Linked DNA regions of Homo sapiens: region 1 is linked to region 2. A link means that fine-mapping ties the variant in region 2 to the expression of a gene that starts in the linked region. Tissue or cell type: skeletal muscle. Region 2 holds a variant in brackets; the other region holds the start of a gene. All regions are shown on one strand. Distances are from middle to middle.

Region 1 (8,194 bases), 120 kb after region 2:
GACCAAGGAAACAGAATAAAGAGCCCAGAAATAAATCCATGCATTTAAAGTCAATTGATTTTTGAGAAAGATGTTAAGAACACAGAAAAGACAGTTACAGAAACATACTTTTCACAGATGTTAAGAATAACAGTCTCAATAAATCATTTTGGGACAACTGGATATCCACATGCAGAATGAAATTAGACCCTCATCCTTTACCATATAAAAAAATTTAACACGAAAAGGATTCAAGATTTAAATGTAAGACCTGAAACTGTAAAACTACTAGAAGAAAACATAAGGGGAAAGTTGCACGACATTGGTCTGGGCAATGACTTTTTTTGGATATAAACCCCAAAGCACTGGTAACAAAACCAAAAATAAATAAATGGGATTACATCACACTAAGAAGTTTGTAGAATCTGGATTTTAAATTATTTTTTAAAAATTATTTTAAAAGACTACGAAGCTTTTGCACAGCCAACGAAACCATCAATAGAGTGAAGAGAACCTATGGAATGGGAGACTATATTTGGAAACCATATATGTGATGAAGGGAACCTCTGTACACTGTTGGTGGGAATGTAAATTAGTACAGCTATTATAGAAAATAGTACAGAGGTTCCACAAAAAATTAAAAATAGAACTACTATATGATCCAGCAATCCCACTTCTGGGTATATATCCAAAGGATGTAAAATTAGTACATTCAAGAGACATCTGTACTTGAAAGTTCACTGCAACATTATTCACAATAGCCAAGATACGGAATCAAAAGTGTCCATCAATGGATGAATGGATTAAAAAAAGTGGTATATATACACAATGGAATACTATTTAGCCTTAAAAAAGAATGAAATCCTGTCATTTGTGACAACATAAATGAACTGGAAGACATTGTGTTAAATGAAATAAGCCAGTCAAACAGAGACAGATACTGAATGATCTCACTTATATATGGAGGATAAAAAAGTACAACTCATAGAAATATTGAGTAGAATGGTGGTTAGCAGGGGCTTGGGGTTAAGAGGATTGGGGAGATGCGGTTAAAGGATACAAAATTTCAGTTAGGCAGGAGGAATAAGTTCAAGAGATCTCCTACATGTCATGGTGACTGCTGTTAATAACAATATATTGTATTGAAAATTGCTAAGAGAGGCGATTTTAAGTGTGCTCACCACAAAAAAAAGTAAGTACGTGAGGCATTGCTTATGTTAAATAGCTTGGTTTGGCCATTCCACAATGTATTCATATATCAAAACATCATGTTGTACATCATAAAAATACAATTTTTACCTGTCAATTTAAATAAAGAAATAAGATTTTTGAAAAAGGACAAAAGGCAATAGACTACCTTTAAACTTCATGAGGTTTTGATGAACAAACTTTTCTCTAGAGTTCAAAGAAGTACTAGAATACAGATACAGCCAGAACAGCTGCAGAGAAGTTGAGACAGGAACAGGAGGAGGTTAAAGAGTGACTCATGAGGCTTTGATCATAATCTATCAATAAATGAGATGACTATTGTTTTCTTTGATCTAGTTGTCAGTAAACAGCTCTCATTCAAGAACCATTAGGCACTACAAAGGTGAAGGGCTATCCCTGTTTCAGGACAGCTCAAACAAGTTGCTTTCATAGGTGTGTTTACTTGTTGCTTTGTTCTTTATTTTTCAGCTTGATGATAAGGGCTATGGGGATAAGAGTATTTGCTTCTTTCTGCTAGTAATCCTGGGACAGTCCCTTTCCAGATACTTCTCCATCTTGCCCTGGTATAAAAATCGAAGGGTGAAAACCTTGGCTTACTGGTTTTTATTCAGTCAATTTTATATCCTAAATTATTTAGAGAGATAGTAGGAACGAAATAAAACTGACTGGAAGCAAGCACCTAGTTTCTGGCCATTAACATATAAAACTAAATTGAATTAAGCCCCTTACTCTACCAATTACTATATTTTACTTTGTCTTAGAAGGCAGAAGAAATGTTGATAATTAGACAAAACAATAACTGGAATTTCATACAAGTAAAAAATAGTTTTCCCATCTCCATGCAATTTTTATTAATAGTAGTAACACACTTAACAAAAACTCTAATTGCTAAGGCTATACCTTACATAAGACAGAATGTTCAACAGACTTACTTGTGAATATCTAAGTCCCATAATTTACTTTGCTCTTTCCTTAAATGCAATTTCAACCCATGGTTCCCATTGTCTTCCCCATCCTCTTTTGGCTTTTTAAAAGACAGGGATTCCCTGGATCCTGGATCTAGTACCTAATCCTCTTTTTTAAAACAAAAACAAAAACAAAACACTGAGTTTCTCTGTTGTCCAGTCTTGTCTCAAATTCCCGGGCGCAAGTGATCCTCCTGCCTCTGCCTCCCGAGTAGCTGGGATTACAGGTGCGCACTGCTGTGCCAGTTCTGGTACCTAATCCCTAGTTGGGTACTTAATCCTTACATCACAAGTCATTTGCAGAAAATATTTTCATTTCTATAATCATATTTGATGCCAAAGTTATGTTTCTAGGCTATCTCCTCTAGCCATCTTTTAGATCCAGAATGTAAAATAAATTTAAACAATGTGGTTTTGGGGTACGGGAACGAATGACAAATTGCAAAATAAAAACTGTTTTCAACTGTGAAATTTTAGAAGCCGGGCGCGGTGGCTCACGCCTGTAATCCCAGCACTTTGGGAGGCCGAGGCTAGTGGATCGCCCAAGGTCAGGAATTCGAGACCAGCTTGATCAACATGTTGGAACCCCGTTTCTACTAAATATAAAAAATTAGCCAGGCATGGTGGCGCATGCCTGTAATCCCAGCTACTCAGGAGGCTGAGGCAGGAGAATCGCTTGAACCCGGGAGGTGGAGGTTGCAGTGAGCCGAGATCGCGCCACTGCACTGTAGCTTGGGTGACAGAGTGAGACCCTGTCTCACAAAAAAAAAAAAAAAAAAAAAAAAAATTAGATTTCCTATTGTTCCCTTTAATCGCAATAAGCCTGACTGACCTATCTCACAGGGACCTCTAGAACACTAACTCAGTAGAGGAGGGGTGCAGGATTGATTTTAACAGAGTAAAAGAGAACCTAAGATGTGTTAACACAATTGGGTGATGAGAGGTCACGGTACATGAATAAAGACTGTAATTCTTGTTTTACTCCATTTGTCAGTCTCAGCAGTGAAAGGTGATTTCCAGGCGACTCTATAAACCAGTATCACCGGACCTACCTCCTCACAAACTGTAGAAAAGCGGTTGAGGAACTGTACAGTGTGCACCACAAATTGGTTTAGAAAAGCCACCGTTCTTTTCTGTTGAATAGCTGGCACCTGTGTTACGTAAAAACAAACATGGTTCATACAGGAGGAACGTACACAGTGCAAATCTTTTCATATTTGGACATAATCACGAGGCACTTTGCTGTGTGATATGAATTTCTTGAAGGACTGGGAATAGTCATTAACTTGTTTCCTAAGCTGTGGGTGGGGTGTCCGAAGATGACAGAGGTGCACAAAAGTTTGAGAACAGGCTCTAGACTCACTGGTACGAATTTTGGCAGGCAAAAAGCACCACACATAAACACACACAAAATCTTGGGGGCTGAATAAGAGGTAGGGCTAGCTATCGCAACCGGCGTGTGTCGCCGGCGGCAGAGAGACAAGCGAGATGGGAAGCGACAGTTGGGAGATGCACACCGTCTCCTTAATCAGCTCAGGAGGGACCCCATTTCAAGGTGGACTGTGGGGCTCTCCCTCCTGAGGCCCCACAGGCCTGTCACAAGGGCCCGAGGCCGTGACAGGGTGGGGACTCGGAAGGTGGGTGTCTCCCCGGAAAGCTGCGTCTTCCCCATCCTCCTCCCGGCTCGTCGGGAGTCTAGCACCGTCTTTTACAAACCTTGGTCAGGTCTATGCCTGACCCCATGAGAGGAAGCCCGTCCTCATCCATCTCCTCAGCGGGCGGTGGACCCCGAGTTCACCCACAAACCCCTCCCAGATGGGGCCCGCCCAACCCGGTAATCACGTCTCAACTTTCCCCCCAAGTGCCCGCCTCCGGGGCCCTTCCCGCCGGAAGAAAGCTTCTCCGCTCACTAATCACTCGGCGGCTTCCGGAGAGCCCGCCTCCTCGCTCGGCATTCTGGGATTGGTAGTTTTAGTCCAGATTGTGACGTCAATTTCGGGGTGGCGCGCGGTGGTGCAAGGATGCAGTTAGAGCACTGAAATCTTAGAAAGGAGGCAACAAAACAAAACAAAAAAACAAAGCCAGAAGTTGCGTCCTTTTGAGGTTATCCCTACTTAGTCCTGTCTGTTATATAATAACTCCGTCATTCCTTGAGCAACAATTTTTTTTTTGTTGTTGTTAATCCTAAGTGCCATATACTCTGCTAGGCTTTTACTGGGAAAACAAAGATTGAGTTTGATTGCTGCACGGGAGAGGTTTATGCCCTGAAGAATGAGAAATAAGACCTACTTCCAAAGCGTGTGTGTGTGTATACACACAAGTTCTCGCTATTTCCCCAGGCTGGTCTCGAACTCCTGGCCTCAAGCGATTCTCCTGCCTCAGCCTCACACGATTCTCCTGCCTCAGCCTCACAGAGTGCTGGGATTACAGGCGTGAGCCAACGCGCCTGGTCTTCCAAAGGTTTTTAAAACATGAAATAAAATGTCAACTACTAGATGTGAGGCACAAACCTACGGAAGTGACTGCCACTTACAGGGAGCATCAAAAAGATGAAGACCAAGACTGCAGTGGGCAGTTTTGTTTTAAAGATGGGGGGTCTCGCTTTGTTACCCAGTCTGGCGTGCAGTGAGGATCATAGCTCACCTTAGTCTCAAACCCTTTGGCTCAAATGATCCTCATGCCTTGGCCTCCCTAAGTGCTGGGATTATAGGTGTGAGCCACTGGCACCTGGCCTGTTGGTTTGGTTGAAGCAAATAATCCCATAAATGGAGAATGGTAGGAAATGAGGTAAGAGTGTTACTGGTGGAGGGTGTCCAGGTTCTTTTGAACAAAGAATTGGACAAAACGCACAAATCAAGGAGAGAATGAACCAACAAAAGCAAAGATTCATTGAAAACCAAAGTACGCTCCACAGTGTACTGGATACAGAATCTTCTTAGGTCCAAATACCCACTAGAGATTTCCCATTGGACACTGGTGTTCTCCTCATGCAAATGAAGTGGTGGCCCACAATCAGTCTGATTGGTTATGGAAAGCAACCAATCAGAGGCTGAAGTAAAATGACAAAGGTCATACTCCTATACAAACATCTGATTGGTTGTGGAAAGCAACCAATCATTGGCTAAAGTGATGTTACTTAGTTGCACTTCTATGCAAAGGAAGATTTGGCCCGCAATCAGTCTGATTGGTTGAGGTACTTTCAATTTCCATCTGCCTGTCAGAAAAGGTGGGGATTTGCAAAGGGAGTAGCCGCTGGTCCTTTTGTTACTTAGGTGTGGAAATTTGGGGTTTACCTTTTGATTTAGTTCTAGGAAGTCAGCGTGAATCGGCGTTAGGTTCCCTGCCTCCAGACCCTATTCTGCCTCAGGAGACGTAGCCAGAAAATTTTCGTTTAAGGGCCTTTTATGCCAGATTTGATACTATAGTCCATGTTTATCTAATGTGATTCATAGGCCATCTGTAGCAATTATTTGGGTGTGGGTGGTGTTTCTTAAAGTTGCACGTTGCCCAGCTTAACCTTAGCGTGATCACCTTCTCCTGATTGAACTTTCTTAATTTTTCTTTCAGGAAGGCAGATCTTCTCTGGTTTTCTTTGTATCACTATGGTCATTTCCTTTCAGTTTCTTTTGCTGGTTGCTTCTTATGTCCCCAATCTCTAGAGTTTCTCACATTTATATATCTAACCCAGACCTTACATTGGAAGCCAGTATAGCTGAAGCAGAGTGAGCAAGGTGGGGAACTGAAGGACATGATGGCTAAAAGTTATGTGGAGACCTGATCATGCAGAGCTTTATGGGACATCATAAGGACTTTGGCTTTCACTCTGGGTATGATGGGAAGTCATGGAAAGATCTAGAGCAGAGAAATGATGGGAGCTACAGAAGAGCTTTTAAGCAGGGGGTGGCATGATCAGAATTGCATTTCGGGACATTCTGTTTGGTACAAGGTAATGAATGTGACTTGAGGGTAGGTGGCTGAACCTGGAAATGTTGCATAGGTCTAACAGTCACTCTTTACTCCATCCTCCTTTACATCTAGTCATTCATCAAATCTTACCTCTTCTACTTCCTAAGTAGTTCTTGAATCAGTCTGTAACTCTCCATCCTTACTGCCATATCTCAAGTTCTGTACAACACACTTTTGTGCCTGGGTTACTGCAATAGCCTCTTCCTGCCTCCATTTTGTGTCTCTCCAAGCTACTCCACACATTGTAGCCATAGTGATTTTTAAAAAGACAAATCTGATTATATTACTCAGGATATAATTTTGTTCCCCATCTCCCTCAGATACTATGCTCACAGGTCCTCTCTGTGGCTCTTGGCCACTTCTTTAACCTTACCTCTCACTGTTATAACTTTCTCCTTAGCCCCAAATAACTTCTTTCAATTCCTGGAATTGCTTGCTGTGTGTGGGTCTTTCAAGATGTTGTCTTCCCTCTGCCTGGAACAATCTCCCCTGCTTCCCAACAACCCCTGCCTGGCTAACTCCTACTCATTCTTCACATATCTTCTCTCCTTTATCCTTGGTTTTCAAGTTTGAATATAATGTGCGTGGGGTATGGGTATGGTTTTCTTTGTATTTATCCTGCTTGTAGTTTGCTGAGCTGCTCAGATCTGTGGGTTGGTGTTCTAAATCAAATTTGGAAGAAAGATTTTTGGCCATTAATTCTTCAAAAAATGTTTTTGTCATTTTTCTCTTTTTCTGGGACTTCAAAAATACTTGTATGTTAGACTGCTTGATTTTGCCCATAGATCACGGTGCTCTGCTCATTTCCCCCCAATCATTTTCTTTTCTCCCTGTGTTTCAGTGTGGATAATTCTTACAAACCTATCTTCAAGTATTTTCTAGTTTCCAATTTAACTATTTTCTAGTTTCCAATTTAGTTCCAGAACTCATCTAATAAGTTGATTTCAGATGTATTTTTTTCTAAAAATCTGTTTTTTAGAGTTTGTTTTTCTCTTGAAATTCCCTTCATTCATCTTTTCCTCTATATTAAAAAAACCAAATTTATAAGTTTTTAAAAAGTCCTTATCTAATAATGCCAATTTCTGGTTCATCTATGTGCCTGGTTCTATTGACAACTTTTTCCTAATTATGGGTTATGTTTCCTGCTTTTTAGCATGTCTTATAATTTTTAATTTTATTATGGACATTGTGAAAAAAAGAACAAAGTTCAGTGAGAAATGGAACATTCAGATTCATTCACAATTTGAATTGAGCTGATGCTGGGCTGCAGCTTTAGATTAAGTTTACCTGCAGTTAATTCAATTCAACCTCCTGCAAAGGACTGAGCTCTTGGATCTTGTCTGTGTTAGAGAGGGATGGGCCATAGTTTCAGATCATTTGGTTCACCTTCGGATTCAGCTTCAGCAGGGCTCAGGAATCCAAGCACCATAAGAATGTGCAAGATTTAGTGAATTCTACTTACCGAAAACATTTCCTCCATTACTGCTTTCTTAGCAATCTTAGGGGTAGGGTGTAGGCCCAAGTGATTTATTTTCGTGATTGAGGTCCTTCCAGACCCAAGTCTGTCTCACCAGCTTGTAGCAAAGTCTTAGCCACTTTCTCCTTAACTCTGCAAAGTCTCCTAGAGTGTTGCAGGCTTGTTCTTCCATCTACTTGTATCCAGACCACGCCCTTCTCCCTGGGCATGGCAATGCCACAGCTCTCTGCTCAACTATGTTCCTCCAAACATAGGCATGACTATAGAATTTATTTCATTAAGGTCTTACATACATGGCTTTTCAACAGCCCCATAAAAAGTATGATTTTTATCTGGTTATTTCTTATTACCACTAAATAAAAGGCTTTCATGCATCTTTCTGTATTCGAACTAGTAGCAGAAGTCTTAACATTCCATCCTTAGAGCTTTCCCAAAGCCACACAGATTAGATTAACTGTTCTTACATGCTTCCATAGCATTCTCTGCTTAACTCTATCTTAGCACATATAATTGCCTGTTTGCTTGAAAGCCTACTATATTACCAATTTAGGGCAGAGTCTCTGTTAGTTCACCATTAAGGTCCTAGCCCAATGTTTGT
Region 2 (8,158 bases):
TAGAATCAGGATAGGTTAACATCTTTCTTTTGCTCATTCCCTTTATAGATAGAAAATCACATAAAGCAACTCTTTTCAACAACTGCTTGTCAATGGTTTGTTTCCACCTTGGGGCAACTACATTCCACTGTGGAAGTTCTTATTGAAGAAACATAGCGCCTATGAGTTGAGAAATGAGTGGTTCTTTCCTTCACCAGCTTTCTCATTTTAAAGGGGGAATAAATTGCACATGTGAGGAAAAGAACAAACTTCTTTAGGACATAAGTTCTTTGTAATTTAAATTTTTTCTCTAGACTTTGGGCTCAAGACTTATACAATAAGACTCTTTTTAATGATGTGGCAGGCTATAAAAGGATTGGAGGCAATTGAGAGAGAAGAGGAGAGGAGGGAAGGGGAGAGGAGGGGAAGGGAGGGGAGAGGAGGGAAGGGAAAGGGAGGGAAAGGGAGGGGAAGGGAGGGGAGGGGAGAGGAGGGGAGAGGAGGTTATTACCAGCGAATACTGCCCCTACACAGAGCCTCCCACGTATGTGGATATATCACATAGCTTTTTCTCACTTATCATGTCTTTATTGTTCTCTTGTGAAGTAGAACAAGACAGACAGGTCTCCCTATCCAAGCCAAACACAAGAGACTTACAGAGCCAAACACAAGAGACTTAAGGTAATTGTCAGCAGCAAATGCTCAGGTTGGTTATTTTTTTCTCTGTATCTTCCCTTATTACCCGCCAACACAGCCCCTACGCAGAGCCTCCCACGTAGGAGAAGACTTTACATATACTTTTAAAATGTTTTCCTCAAGAGAAAGAGAAAACAAGATCCAGGAATATAGCCCACAGAAACCAGCAAAGGACAGAGGAATCACTCTCCACCCATAGCAATCACCAGCTCAGAGAAACTCTGAGTTTGGAGAGTCTTTTGCATTCACCTAATTTCATCCTTGCATTATGTACAGGAGAGGACCAGGGAGTCATGCAGAGAGGTACCAGCCCGGCCAGTCCGGGAGCTTCTAGACAATTGTTCCCCAAAGCAATGCCCTTCCCACCGCCCTGTGCTGGACCCCAGTCTCAAGCCCTTAAGAGACTTCAGGTGCTTATCTCTGCAGGCAGCAAAGTGCAGGAGCAATAGCCACATCCCATCCTAATTCTACACACTGCAGTGTGCGACTTGTTTTTGACAATCCCATTCTTGTCCCAGTGAGAACAATGGAGAAAATAGCATGTAAGGGGATATTGCTAGACCAGCAAACAAAATGCATTTGTCTGTCTGATTTGTGATCCATTTCTACTATTCACCTCTCAAAGAAATGCTGGGAAGAGCTTGGAAGCTAGCAATTAAGCAGTTCAAACTCTTTGGAAAGTTTCTAGTGCCTTAGAATTCCAGGAAGTGCTGAATCATAGAGTCGCAGAATAGGAAAAGATTTGTAAGACAAGAATAAAATGAATATTTATTGAACACCTCCCATATTATTGGATATATTTTGTCTCAACCTCACAGTCACTCTCAGAGGCGGGTGTACTGTGATCTCCTGTTAGAGGAGGAAACTGAGGGTCAGAGTGGTTAATTGGAACTGGTAAGCTAGGATTTGAACTTAGGTCTATTTGGACTGAAGAAACAACTACTCAGAAGTATTATGCTATTACTTTCTTTGTTCTCACTTCCTCTTTCTTACTGGAGGATGCTCAGTTCATAACCTCTATCTGTGAAAGATACTTCCCCCTCTACTATCTTCAGATTATCTTCTTAGAGATAGAAACATTCTACAACCACATTTGTATCTGCCTTTCACAACTATTATAGTAAACAAGTTCTTCCTAGCATCTAACTTAAATCCCCCCAATACACTGAGAGCCACCAGCTCTGCCCTCAGGGAACATGAAACATGGCTAGAACATTCCAGTTAGCAGCAGCTTCCCAGTCTTGGTTCCAAACTGCTTCTGTTAAAAGAATCACCAATTCAAAACACATGCACTGTCATGAACCCTCGCCCCAATCCAGATGCTCCACTCCTTGGGCCCCTTTAAGGGTGAACATGAATATCACTCAGGCTCAGGCCCTGTTATCCAGATGCCATCAAGAGGGATCAAGGCTTTCCTTCTATCTCCATTTCCGAGCTAAGCCTAGATTGGACCTCCTTTTTCAAAGTACATTCTAGGACTACCATTTTATGTGATCAAATAAAGGGCCTATTTATATCTGAGCTGTGTCAGGGATGAGTAAACAAAATTCTTCCACTGGGAATTTGGGCACCTTCTATATTCTATGACTCTTTTTTTGTTTTTTGAAACAGAGTCCTGCTTTGTCACCCAGCTTGGAGTGCAGTGGTGTGATCTTAGCTTACTGCAACCTCCGCCTCCCAGGTTCAAATGATTCTCATGCTTCAGCTGCCCAAGTAGCTTGGATTACAGGAATGTGCCAACACACCCAGCTAATTGTTTTGTATTTTTAGTAGAGATGGGGTTTCACCATGTTGGCCAAGCTGGTCTTGAACTCCTGGCCTCAAGTGATCCGCCTGTCTCAGCCTCCCAATAAGATTACAGGTATGAGCCACACTGCCCAGCCCACCTTCTGTGTTTCTTTACTAACAGAAAAATGTAGCCCTTTGCAAAAGTGCATGCATGCAGCATGATAGAGAATATCTTTCAGTCTTGCTCCTTTAGGGGTATATCTTTATTCTTTATGTATTTAATAGCTGATTTCAATAATAGCTCATGTTCAATGAGTGCGTACTATGTGCTGGGCTTTCCATGTTTTAAGCTTTACATGTTTTAGCTCATTCTTAGCAATTCCAGGAAGTAGATGCTGTCTTTAGCATTTTGGTTTTTTTTTTTTTTTTTGGGAAGCAGGGTCTCACTCTGTCTTCCAGGCTGGAGTGCAGTGGCGCAATCTTGGCTCATTGCAACCTCCATCTCCCAGGTTCAAGCTGCTCACCTCAGCCTCCCAAGTACCTGGGACTGTAGGTGTGTGCCACCATGCCTGCCTAATTTTTGTGCTTTTTTGGTAGAGATGGGGTTTCACCATGTTGGCCAGGCTGGAGCATTTTGATTTTACAATTGAGGCAAAGAAGGGAAGCAAATTGCGTAAGGCTGCCAGGTAATAAGTGACTGAACCTGGCCAATCTAATTCCAGAATACATGCTCCTGAGCACTCTGTTAGTTAGTATTCATTTTGGCTGTGATAGCAGAACCCAAAACAACAGTGGTTTAAATTAAATGGAAGTTTATTTCTCTTAGGTAGAAGTCCAGAGGTTAGTCCAAACTAGATAGTCCAAAACTAGACTAGAAGCTCAACTCCACACAGTGCTCAGGGCTCCAGGCTCCTTCTCTATTCCAGTACTCCTAATGTGTAGTTTCATCCCCAACATCCAAAATAGATGCTAGAACTTCAGCCATCTCATCAGTATTCCAAGCAGCAGGATGAAAGAAGAGACAGGATAGAAAAGGGATGAAACACATGCCAGTTGTTTACTATGGACTGTTCCTGGATGCAGCCATGTGACATTTCTGCTTACATCCCACTGATCATAGTAGCAAGAGGGCTGGGGGTAGTTGTTATTCTAGGTGGCTTTGTGACTGGTTATAAAGTAGAGGATTTTATTACTGAAAGAAGGAGAGGAGTAATCAGAGGCTAGATGGGTATATGGAGGGGTAGAGGGAGATGTAGCTGGAGAAAGGGGCAGGGCCTGGGTGATGAGAACTTACCAAGACCCTACATTTCCCCACTCTAATCTTTGGGTTCATTTTCCATTCCAGCAGGTACCAAGGGAAGGCAGGGCCATCCCTTGAAAACCATCAGTTTTGACTGCTGCCTGACCCCCTGAAGCTCTGTAATCAGCACTCCTAGAACACAACTCAGGTGTCCACCTTGGTGGTAAACTTTAGGCAGGTTCCAGCCTGGGACCATCAGTTCATTGGGTTCAAATGGAGGTGGGTGGCTTCTGATTGGTGTCTCCAGAAAGCCCCAAAAGGGAAGGTGGTGTGGGGGAGGAGGACACTGTGATGGGCCACAGCCTCAGAGTGGCTTTTGCCTCTGAACCTCCAGAGCGAGCCTGGAAACCAGCCACGAGAGAGTAACTTCATGGTTTCCAAAGCTCCTTTGCATATGCTATTTCCCTTGAAACATACAAGATTGTGATAGGGCTTGCTCTGCTCCCTGTTTTGCCAGTGAGGAAAAAGGAGTCAGAATCCTCCTGTAATTTTCAGTAGGATAAGGTGAGGTCTCAGAATCTGTCTTTTCACAGGGGTGCCAGGAGATTCTTATGTTTAAAAAACTTTGGGAAACACCAAGCTCAGGGTGGCAAGTGATATAGGAGGGCCACATCTTAGGGGACAGATAAATCACAAGACTGTAGACTCTGTGATGAATAAATGCCCTAATTTATTTTTGTTCTGTTTTGTTTTGTTTTGCGACAGTCTCACACTGTCGCCCAGGCTGGAGTGCAATGGCGTGATCTCGGCTCACTGCAACCTCTGCCTCCTGGGTTCGAACAATTCTCCTGTCTCAGCCTCCCGAGTAGCTGGGATTACAGGCACCCACCACCATGCCCAGCTAATTTTTATATTTTTTAGTAGAGACGGAGTTTCACCGTGTTGGCCAGGCTGGTCTCGAACTCCTGACTTCGTGATCTGCCCGCCTCGGCCTCCCAAACTGCTGGGATTACAAGTGTGAGCCACCATGCCCAGCCAAAATGCTCTAATTTATAACCAGTCACAAAGCCATCTAGAATAACAGCTAACCCAGCCCTCTTGCTACTATGATCAGTGGGATGTAAGCAGAAATGCCACATGGCTGCATCCAGGAACAGTCCACAGTAAACAACAGGGACGTGTTTCATCCCTTTTCTATCCTGTCCCTTTGAGTTATACCTGTCGTCGTCACTGCTCTGTCTCTGTACCTGGCACACTGTAGATACTCAATACATATTTGTTGAAAGGATGAATAAAGAC[A/C]AGCTTAGATATTCAGACTTTTAGATCCTACTTCCTCTAGTGCCATGGAAGAATCCTAGAAGGAGCTCACATTTTATTATGCTTGCCACCGCAAGATGAGAGATAAGTACTACTAAAACTCATTTTACAGATGTTAAACACTGGGGTTAAATGACTTGCCCAGGGTCACACAAACCCTAAGTGGTAGAACCAGGATTTAAACTCATGTTCTTCAACATGATGCTCTTTTGTTTCTTTAATATGGATCAACTATTTATTCCATTGCAATAGATTTACCATAGCTCAAATCATTCCCTGGGAAACAGAAAGTCTATTCTATAGCTTTTTCATATAACAAGTAACCTAATACACAGATGTGAGCCCTGTCACTTGACACCGCCCATGTTATAGAAAAGTTCCACTCTGCCTCACAGACTATTTGCTCGCATTGAGGTGCCAAACTGGATTGGCGGAGAGGAGCGTATATTGAACTTGAATGTTTACTTTACTCGTGAGCACACACATCTGTTTTTGTTTATGGGGATGGCGGCAATCAGAGCGAGCTCTCCTCAGCAGACATTCTTGACAGTGGATTTCTCTCCCAGTCTGAGAAGTTTTATTATCTCTGAGGCTGGCAAGCAGGCTGTCAGTTTAGACCGTGCCCTTTTGAACCCAGAGGCTTCTGGGCTCTTCTGTTCTTTCCAAAGAGGCATTATTACTTCAGGGCTGAACTGAATCTTAAGGAGATGTGAGATTTTGTGGTGGAGTAACTACATCCACGGGACCTCACATAGACCTGGAAGAGTGAAACAGTTCTAAAAGCCCCTCTCTTATCCATTGACAAATTCAAAGTACAAGAGCTGAGCCCTTATCTGTTCTACTTTCTTAGGGGCCCTCATTCCTCTGCCCTCTTTTGCATCCATTGCCCCAGCTCTTGCACGTGCGGCAGAGGGGAGGTTGCCCGCATGGGGAATAGTTTCTGTTTCCTTCCTTTGTTGACATACCTTTAGGGAAGGCATAATGCACACAGATTGCACTGGCACGTGTTGTCTCGTAACGTGTTTGGTATTAGTAGCCTTCAGGTGGTTTCTGGCTAGTTCTTCCTCTGTCTTAGATGCAGACTGGCCCCTGCACTGTCTTAACACAGAGGCAGGTTTGGATAGTTGGTGGTGGGTTGCATGAGGACTTGGCTTTTTCACTCAGCTACTTTCCTTGAAAGAAGAGTTAAAAGCAGCACTTTATGTTCCTTGGATACAAGCAACTATGACTGGGTTTTTCCATCTGTCCTGTCACCCCAAGTGATGAGACCAGTAGTCAATTCATTGGCTGGCAGAAGGTACATCCTGTGGCACTTTATGTAAGTGAAGCTTTTTCAAAGAGCAGGATATGAAAAATTAGTGGCTATGGGAGGCGTGAATACAGAGGGCCTTGGTAGTAAGTGTGTCCATGAAGTGCTGTTCAGTCTGACTTTGTATTTATAGTCTAGCTCAATAAAAATGATGTGATTTTTTTTCTTGGTTACAAAGGAAATAGGATGGCTCATAGGTCAATAATTCCATATCTGATTTCTTAGACCTGTGACATTTATATCACACTTCCAACAGTTAAAACTTTTGTCTTCTGAAATATCTGCTCATTCCACTGGGAAAAGCATTTTGGAATACACATAACCTTCTGTGACCCCAGCCATTCGTTTCCCTTAACCTCCCCACACCCTGCATGCCATACTTACTTATTTAATTTTTTTTTTTCTTTGAGCCAGAGTTTCACTCTTGTTGCCCAGGCTGGAGTACAACGGTATGATCTCGGCTCACTGCAACCTCCACCTCCTGGGTTCAAGCGACTGTCCTGCCTCTCAGCCTCCCAAGTAGCCAAGATTACAGGCACCCACCACCATGCCCGGCTATTTATTTATTTTTGTCTTTTTAGTAGACACGGGGTTTCACCATGTTGGCCAGGCTGGTCTCGAACTCCTGACCTCAGGTGATCCACCCGCCTTGGCCTCCCAAAGTGCTGGGATTACAGGCGTGAGCCACCGGACCCAGACTATTTGTTTAATTTTACAACCAGCAACAAGCCTAGCATGCCACACTTAAGTGTTCCCAAATTATAACTCTTCCAAGTAACGGGAACTAGAGGTTTCTTCCTGTGGTGCTGACAGAGGTGACAGTGGGTAAGCAACAGGTGGTTAAAGGTTTGAGCAGGAAGGGGCCCTGTACCCACTCCAGTGTCTTTAAGGTAGATATAAGGCATGTGGAAGTGTGAGAACCGGACACTGCCTTCAGTGCTGTGGGAACCCAGGTGAAGTTTCCCCTTTATAAAGTTTTCCCTATGCCTCCCTTAGAGGGATGAGGCAGCAGAACAGAGCTCCCTGCCTTTACACAGCCATGCAGGGTCCAGGATCCCCACCATCTAAGAGAGACAAAGAAAACTGGGAAAGAGATCTGTTATTGAGCTTCCTGCCAATTTTGTCCTGTGGGACACTCAAACTGGATTTAATTTGATATAGCAAAATAAAGAAATACTCACCATACACTCTATGAGTGTTGTGTAAAAATTCTTAACTGTTAACAATATATAAAAAATCAATCTCAATTTGCAAGGATATTAATATTTAAATCAGAAAATTTTCTCCATTAGATTAACACATATATGCCTGGGTACAGTGGCTCACGCCTGTAATCCCAGCACTTTGGGAGGCCGAGGCAGGCCGATCATTTAAGGTCAGGAGTTCGAGATCAGCCTGGCCAACATGGCGAAATCCTGTCTCTACTAAAAATACAAAAATTAGATGGAGGTTGCAGTGAGCCGAGATCTTGCCACTGCACTCCAGCCCCAGCAACAGAGTGAGACTTCATCTCAAAAAAAAAAAAATATATATATATATATATAATATTTCAGTCTCAGGGGCAACAAAGATATTTTTAAAAGCTCACAGCCAATGATGGTGAGTGAGGGTATGGAGAAATGGTCATGCTTACACACTTTCATTAGATACATAAATTGGTACAATCCTTCTGGCACATAATTTGATAAATAATAACAGCCTTAAATTTCGACCTAGTAATTCTTTTTCCACCAGTCTATTATTTAGTGGAAGTTGTTATTATTATGAAATAATCAGAAACTTGGATAAAAATTTATAAACAAAGCTGTTTATGGGAGCATTATTTATAGTTCTAATAAATGTGATGTTAAAAGTATGATTTGAATAATGAAAAATGGTTAAATAAATGA

The links. PIP is the estimated chance that this variant, and not a neighbour inherited with it, causes the effect.
Region 1: it holds the start of WASHC3, and the variant in region 2 is the best candidate, but not a certain one, in a credible set for the expression of WASHC3 in skeletal muscle (GTEx, PIP 0.89).

Annotation. Positions count from the first base shown.
Region 1 is chr12:102,058,043-102,066,236 of GRCh38, forward strand. It overlaps WASHC3 (WASH complex subunit 3), which reads right to left and starts at 3,949. Exons shown (of 7, transcript NM_016053.4): 1 at 3,870-3,949; 2 at 3,206-3,304. The coding sequence starts at 3,920. RefSeq lists enhancers at 3,608-3,657, 3,668-3,867.
Region 2 is chr12:101,940,133-101,948,290 of GRCh38, forward strand. No RefSeq gene overlaps it. Among named protein-coding and RNA genes, the nearest start is that of DRAM1-AS1, 20 kb to the right of the region's middle. The variant A/C (reference allele first, on the strand shown) is at 4,943.